2 linked regions of the Homo sapiens genome follow. The protein of the gene in region 1 interacts with the protein of each later gene in a biochemical or structural test. Each region holds a gene or a part of one and is shown on either strand. Other genes may lie near its edges.

Evidence for each region.
Region 2: the proteins of MYB (region 1) and UPF2 form a complex in vitro, tested with the Homo sapiens proteins (one large-scale study listed by BioGRID).

The regions. Positions count from the first base shown.
Region 1 is NC_000006.12:135,198,308-135,201,807, reverse strand, and holds part of MYB (transcriptional activator Myb), read right to left. Parts: intron 2,901-3,500; coding exon 2,758-2,900; intron 2,283-2,757; exon of another isoform or gene 2,227-2,282; intron 1,724-2,226; coding exon 1,609-1,723; intron 1,519-1,608; coding exon 1,393-1,518; exon of another isoform or gene 1,251-1,392; intron 170-1,250; coding exon 59-169; intron 1-58. UniProt on the Homo sapiens protein: Transcriptional activator; DNA-binding protein that specifically recognize the sequence 5'-YAAC[GT]G-3'. Plays an important role in the control of proliferation and differentiation of hematopoietic progenitor cells.
Region 2 is NC_000010.11:11,920,810-11,924,309, reverse strand, and holds part of UPF2 (regulator of nonsense transcripts 2), read left to right. Parts: intron 1-3,002; coding exon 3,003-3,012; 3' UTR 3,013-3,500. UniProt on the Homo sapiens protein: Involved in nonsense-mediated decay (NMD) of mRNAs containing premature stop codons by associating with the nuclear exon junction complex (EJC).

The DNA of each region.
Region 1 (3,500 bases):
GATTTCATGAGGCACCAGTGTCACATAACAACTTGGGGGCTGGTGCACACGTACTTACCGGTGCATCTGCCACAGGCGAGGTCTGCGTGAACAGTTGGGTATTCAGACTGTCCCCTTCCCAGTGGTGTGAGCAGAAGAAGTTTCCTGATTTATCAGTTGGAGATTCCACCTAAAAGCATATAGAAAGTGCTTTGTTGTTTCTAGAACTTCCTATGAAACATGTACAGTCAGGAGTATATTTCTGGCCAGTCCCTCAAATACTTTTATAAAACTATGTTGCTAACTTACACTATCAGCTCAATTTGCTCTATCTTCTGGATTCAACAAAGAAACACTGATGGCAAATTTGAAATGTGACTAGCTCCAAATTTACTGCCCCTGTAAAGCTCCTACGTTTTCAACCAATGTTCTGATTCTAGGTGTTTATTCTATTAAGAATATATTTTAATGATACACCTAGTAGTGTTGTATCCGTCAAGGATTTTATTTTGGTGACATAAAAGATCTTTTGGTGACAAAAGACTGGTTTTTAATCACATTCTGGTAAAATTCTCCATTACTAAATAATCAAATCAGATTTTTAGCTATAAAAAAAAATACTTATCTTTACATGAAAATAAATTCAAGAAGCACTGTATCTAACCTGGTGGAAAACAGCTGTTGCCAACAAGCTAAAACTTTGATCCTTGCAGGTTAGATTCTCTTTTTTAATTTTAATTTTTATTTTTTTTGAGACGGAGTCTTGCTGTCTCCCAGGCTGGAGTGCAGTGGTACGATCTTGGCTCACTGCAAGATCTGCCTCCCGGGTTCACACCATAATCCTGCTTCAGACTCCTGAGTAGCTGGGACTACAGGCGCCCGCCACCAAACCCAGCTAATTTTTTTGTATTTTTAGTGGATACGGGGTTTCACCATGTTAGCCAGGATGATCTCGAACTCCTGACCTTGTGATCTGCCCACCTCAGCCTCCCAAAGTGCTGGGATTACAGGTATGAGCCACCGCGCCCAGCCTCCCTTTTTTTAATACAATTAATTAAAGATACTATTATTTTAATTTAAATTCCAATTCTTCACATCTAAAAATGAAATATCAACTTTATATAATCAGTAATGTTTAAAAGTACATTAAAAACCTCTTTCCCTCCCTTTTCTTGATACTCTCTAGTATGTTTTCTGTCCAAACATGAAGTAGATAGAGATGGCTTGGCTTCCCAAAGGAAAGGTTGATGATGCCTACAGTCTGGCAGTACCTTTTCGCTGCACCTTGTATGAAAATCTTGCACGAAAAGTCGTGGTGTTGCACAGTGCCAATGGCAGACACATCAAGCTGCACACAAGGAATAAAGGGGGCAGGATTCTCAGCTTGTTGCTTCCAAAGGGTTGCGTGTTTACCTCTTGTTTGATTTTCTTCAGTAAGGGTGGTCCATTTTCTTGAAACTCAGCAACAATTCCAGATTCATCAGATTCCTGTTTGATCACATCCTGCAGATCTTCTACTAGATGAGAGGGTGTCTGAGGCTAAACGGAAGAGTGGGTATTTTTGCATCAGAGAGAACTCCTAATGGGACTAATAAACCAATGAAATCCAAAAACTTTTCTAGAACTTACTAGCATCTTCAGGGGACCGTATTTAATTTCTTGAGCTGCAAGTGCATGTTTGAATGGTGTAGGAGTTCTTGGAGAGCTTTCTAAGATTGACCTTTTGATAGCTGGGGTTCTAAAACTTTAAAAAGAAAACAAGCAGTGGCTCAATACAAAAGAATAAATGTCCCTACATGGCTTTACCTGTTACATTTAACATTTTTCCACTGAATACAATAAACTCTGTTCCGGATATGGAATTGGGGTGTGCTGATTAATCACGTTATTCGTTAAGAAAAAGAGAATATGCATATCACATATTTTCAAATATTTCAAAATATTATACCTCGAAGACTAAAAGCATTAAATGATTTAACATCTTTCCTTAATGGCTCTGAAGACACATGTAGTGCCTATGATCTGTATAAGACTATGAGCATCAAGAAGACCTGATGTCATTTACAAATCAGGTTTCCCTATTCATGAAAACAGAGCCCATACTACAAAACATGTTAAACTTTTAAAATTTACTTTTTGTACTTCGAAATAACAGTGCATTTCTTTTCAAGGTTTCTGATAATTCACACTTTCTCTACCATTTCTCTGAATTGATTAAGGCTTTATTGAATAAAAATGACTGCTTACTCATCCCTTGGCTTCTAATCATATAATATTCCTGGGGATGTCAGAAGAGGTCCTATCTACACATAAATTCAAAAAGAAAAAATAAGATTAAAAAATACAAACTAAAAATAAATAAATAATAAACAAATAAAATTAAATAAAAATACAAACTAGGTAAGAAACCATACTCGTTCTTATTCTGAAGCTTACAATTAGAGAGGAAAGGAGGTTGAAAATCTGGCTTTCATAAGAAGGCCTTATGGAGGGAACAAACAAACCGAATGGAAAAGTTTTATGAAAACTACTTGTGCATATATAGGAAATTTTGGAGTAAGTTACAAAAGGAATCTAGTTTATCTTCCCATCTTCTACCTGTAGGTAGTTGTAATATGCCCAGGACAGATATATTCAATGTGGGAATAGACATGATTATATATAAATGGTCAGTAAAATTATGCACATACAAGTGGATCAGACATCTGGGAACTATATTCCATTAATTAAATATAAGTAAATAAGATAAATCATTTTATTCCTGAACCAAAGACTTACACAGTATTTTCCTTTTGAGTTTTCACAGTCTGGTCTCTATGAAATGGTGTTGTAACAGTCAATTTGTGACCAATGAGGGGGGTGGAAGTTAAAGAAGGCATTTCCAAGTCTGAGTTTTCATGGTTACTGGAAGTGTTTAAGAACTAAATATGGAGAGAAAGAAAAAATACTTAGATTAGATGGTAATTCTTTATTCTCCCCAATTTAAAAATCACACCTAGATAACAAGAATGTTTTCCTGACCCACTATATTAAATAATAAAGATGCTAACAAGCATGTTATATTGACTAGGGTATTGTTTTATTTCAATTGAGCACCCAGGATTTGGGTGTGGTTTCCAAGAAATAAAATTTAGGGTCATTGCTGAAAAACTTGCAAAACTGTGAGAAAATACTCTCAATAAATGACACTTGTCATTAAAGAGAATGAGATGTGTTCTTTATTAACATTTAAAAGGCTTTAGTGATTTTGGGGAAAATAATAGTTAATAATTAATAGTTTCCTTTCATACTTTGTTTTTTCTCTTTAATAATCTATGAACCAAAATTAGTATTACAGAAGGTTTACATTATATGGAAAATTCTTGAATAATAAACTGTGTCTCTCAGAACACTAAAGTTCTGGGAAAAAACTAGGTGTTCCTTAAACAATTCCAAGGTAAAATAAATTTGGGAAACACAACATATCATAATCTCCTCCTGGAAATTCACAAGGCACAACGGCATATTAATAACTCTGAGAA
Region 2 (3,500 bases), on another chromosome or scaffold:
CACCACGCCCGGCATAAACTATTTTTCTCCTGTAGCTTTTGATGGACTCCCAGATTTTAATTTGTATTTGTATATTTTCTAACCAGGAGATCCTTGAAATAAGGACATAAATTAAAATTTCAGCCCTTTAACAAATAAGAGGCATTTGCTTACAATGAGTTGAAACGGCAGCAGTGCTGTAAGTAAAACTATTATGTAGGGTTTTCTGTATTGCAGAACAAGGTTGTTTTTCTAATACACTAGTATTGAAAATCTGTGAAACTTAACATTTTTGGCAAGTGTTAATACTTACATGGCTTAGATGGTACTAATTCATATGGGTTATTTCAATGCTTCTCAAACTTTAAAATACGTATTAACTCTCTAGACTCTTACTAAAAAGCAAGTTCTGATTAGTTTCTTTTATTATTATTTTTTAATTATTGTGGAAAGCTTCACGAATTTGTGTGTCATTCTTTTTTGTTGTTTTTTGAGATGGAGTCTTGTTCTGTTGCCCAGGCTGGAGTGCAGTGCCGGGATCTCGGCTCACTGCAACCTCTGCCTCCCGAGTTCAAGCAATTCTTGTGCCTCAGCCTCCCAAGTAGCTGTGATTACAGGCATGTGCCACCACGCCCAGCTAATTTTTTTTTTTTTTTTTTTGAGATGGGGTCTCGCTATATCGGAGTGCAGTGGCGTGATCTCTGCTCACTGCAACCTCCGCCTCCCGGGTTCAAGCAATTCTCTGCCTCAGCCTCCCGAGTAGCTGGGATTACAGGCACCTGCCACCACACCTGGCTAATTTTTGTATTTCTAGTAGAGACGGGGTTTCACCATCTTGGCCAGGCTGGTCTTGAACTCCTGACCTCATGATCCACCCTCCTCGGCCTCCCAAAGTGCTGGGATTACAGGCATGAGCCACCGCGCCCAGCCAAATTTTTGTATTTTTAGTAGAGATGAGGTCTCACCATGTTGGCCAGGCTGGTCTCCAAAACTCCTGACCTCAAGTGATCTGCCTGCGTTAGCCTCCCAAAGTGCTGAGGGTACAGGCGTGAGCCACTGCACCCCACCTGCATGTCATCCTTGCACAGGGCCATGCTAGTCTTCTCTGTATCACTACAATTTTTAGTATATGTGCTGCTGAAGTGAGCACAACAAGCTCTGGTTACTTTTAAACAAGATCTCCAGTGATGTCAAAACTGCTGGTGTGTGGCCTACACTTAGCGGCATAGGAGTATACTATCTGACTTTTAAACCCATCTTTTTAAAAATGATTTTGTTGTTGTTTTATTTTGTTTTTGAGACAGGTTCTTGCTCTGTCACCCAGGCTGGAGTACAGTGGCGTGATCACAGGTCACCGCAGCCTCGACCTCCTGGGCTCAAGCAGTCCTGCCTCAGCCTCTCAGTATCTGGGACTATAGGCACACACCACTACAAATGGCTAATTTTTTTTATTTTTAGTGGAGTCGAGGTCTCACTATGTTGCCCAGGCTGATATTGAACTCTTGTAAACCTATCTTAAGTAGAGTCTGCATTTTTTCATCAGATTTTTTTTTTATATATCTTTATGTAAGGTTAAATTAGTGATAGTTTTGTTATACAATAGAGTCCATTGTAGAATTGCATTTAATCCAAAGTGTATATTGTATTAATAAACAGTTTTTGAGCTGATAGATTTTTGAGTCACTCAGAATGATTGTTTGCTTATAAACCAGTCAAATGACACCTTACACTATAACTAGTGATATAACTATACCTTACTTAGCAAAGATTTTGAACATTTTTTTCCTGTCATTTACTGCATTTATTTAAAGTATTCTAGGTTAGATAGCTGCCTTTTCTTGACTTCAGGAGAGATGCTTGAATCTTCTCTTTCATTCCCTCAGGGAATACTTGTGTTCTTTCCATCAGTTCATTTCTGGAAGAGTTACGGATCTTATCCAGCTGAGGATATACTTTTCCATATTTGCATCTTAACGCTTTGAAAGTTTCTTGCTAAGGTAGCTTGCTCTGTAAGAAACAAACTGTTCATCTGCTTGGGCTGCCATGACAAAATATTACAGCCCTAGTAGCTTAAACGACAGATGTCTGTTGTCTCGCAGCACTGGAGGCCGCCGGCAGGAAACCTGAGGTCAGGGAGTCAGCGGGGCTGGTTCCTTCTGAGGCCTGGAGGAAGACTGCTCCAGGCCTGCCTTCTACTGCTGGGGGTGCCGGCAGTCTTTGGCTTCCATACCTTGTCATACCTCACCCTGGTCTCCGCCTTTGTCTTCACGTGGCCTTTTCCCCCTGTGTGTGTCTGTGTGCAAATTTCCCTTTTTATAGAGATGCAGTCATATGGGATTAGGGCTCCACCCTGCTCCAGTATGGCCTTATCTGAAGTAATTACGTCTACAGCAACCTTGTTTCCAAATACGGTCACATTCTGAGGTCCTGCAGTTCAGTGTTAACATGTGAATTTTGGGGATACACAACTGAACCATAACACAAACTGTGAATTCTTAGCACCTTAAGAATAAGTTGTAGAAGAGAACAGAGCCACTCCTCCAGCCATTGCTCCAATGGCTCTGGTTAAGTTGTAGCTCAGTAGAGAGCATGAATGCTCTCAAAAAAGCACTACAGTTGTCCTCGGTATCCACAGGGGGTTGCTTCCTGGATCCCCTCAGACACCAAAATGCACAGACATTCAAGTCCCTGGTAAAAAATGGTGTAGCATTTATGTATAACATATGCACATCCTCCCGTGTACTTTACATCATCTCTACATTACTTGTAATACCTAATAAAGTGTAGATGCTATGGAGATAGTTGATATACTGTATTGTTTTTAATATTTATGTTATTTTTTATTGTTTGGGTTTTTTTCCCCCGAATATTTTTGGTCCATGGATGTGGAACCCGCAGATGCCAGGGCCACCTGTAACTTGGGGGAGTGACTTGGTGGTGGTGGGTAGCGTTGCAGACGCCATCTTGCTGGACTTTGTCCTGTGGCAGTAAGCTCTCTGATGTGACCCTGTTTGTTCCTTTAGGAGACGTTGATCCAGCAGCACGTGTCATTTCATTAGGTCCTGTATCTGATGTTGTGGTTAGTGGAGTCCTCCAGCAATTGAATGAGAGCAGTGGACACATCTCAGCAGGTCGGTCTAGAGAGTTGCGAATCTAAACCTGGGACAGGCTGGGGCCAGGAGGCAGAAACACCAGCCTCTGCCAACACCGGAACAAGCCGACGCTTCCAGACAAGGCGGAAAAGGCCTTTTGTAATGGAAATCTCGCGAGGGTTAATCTTCTCTTGAGAATGGCAGTCAAGAAATGAGATGGTTCACTTGACTACTGAGCAGTTACACCAAGGAGAGCGTGAAGGAGATGATTGAGCCAGAGAAGAAACGGGTTGTGATGGTAATGGTGTGGGGGAAATGAACTTGAGCTTTAAACTTGATTTGAGTTTCAGTGTCTCTGAATTGAACATCCCACGTTGGAAGAAGATACATTTGGGGGCTCCAGGACTACAGTAGAAAAGTATAGAGCAA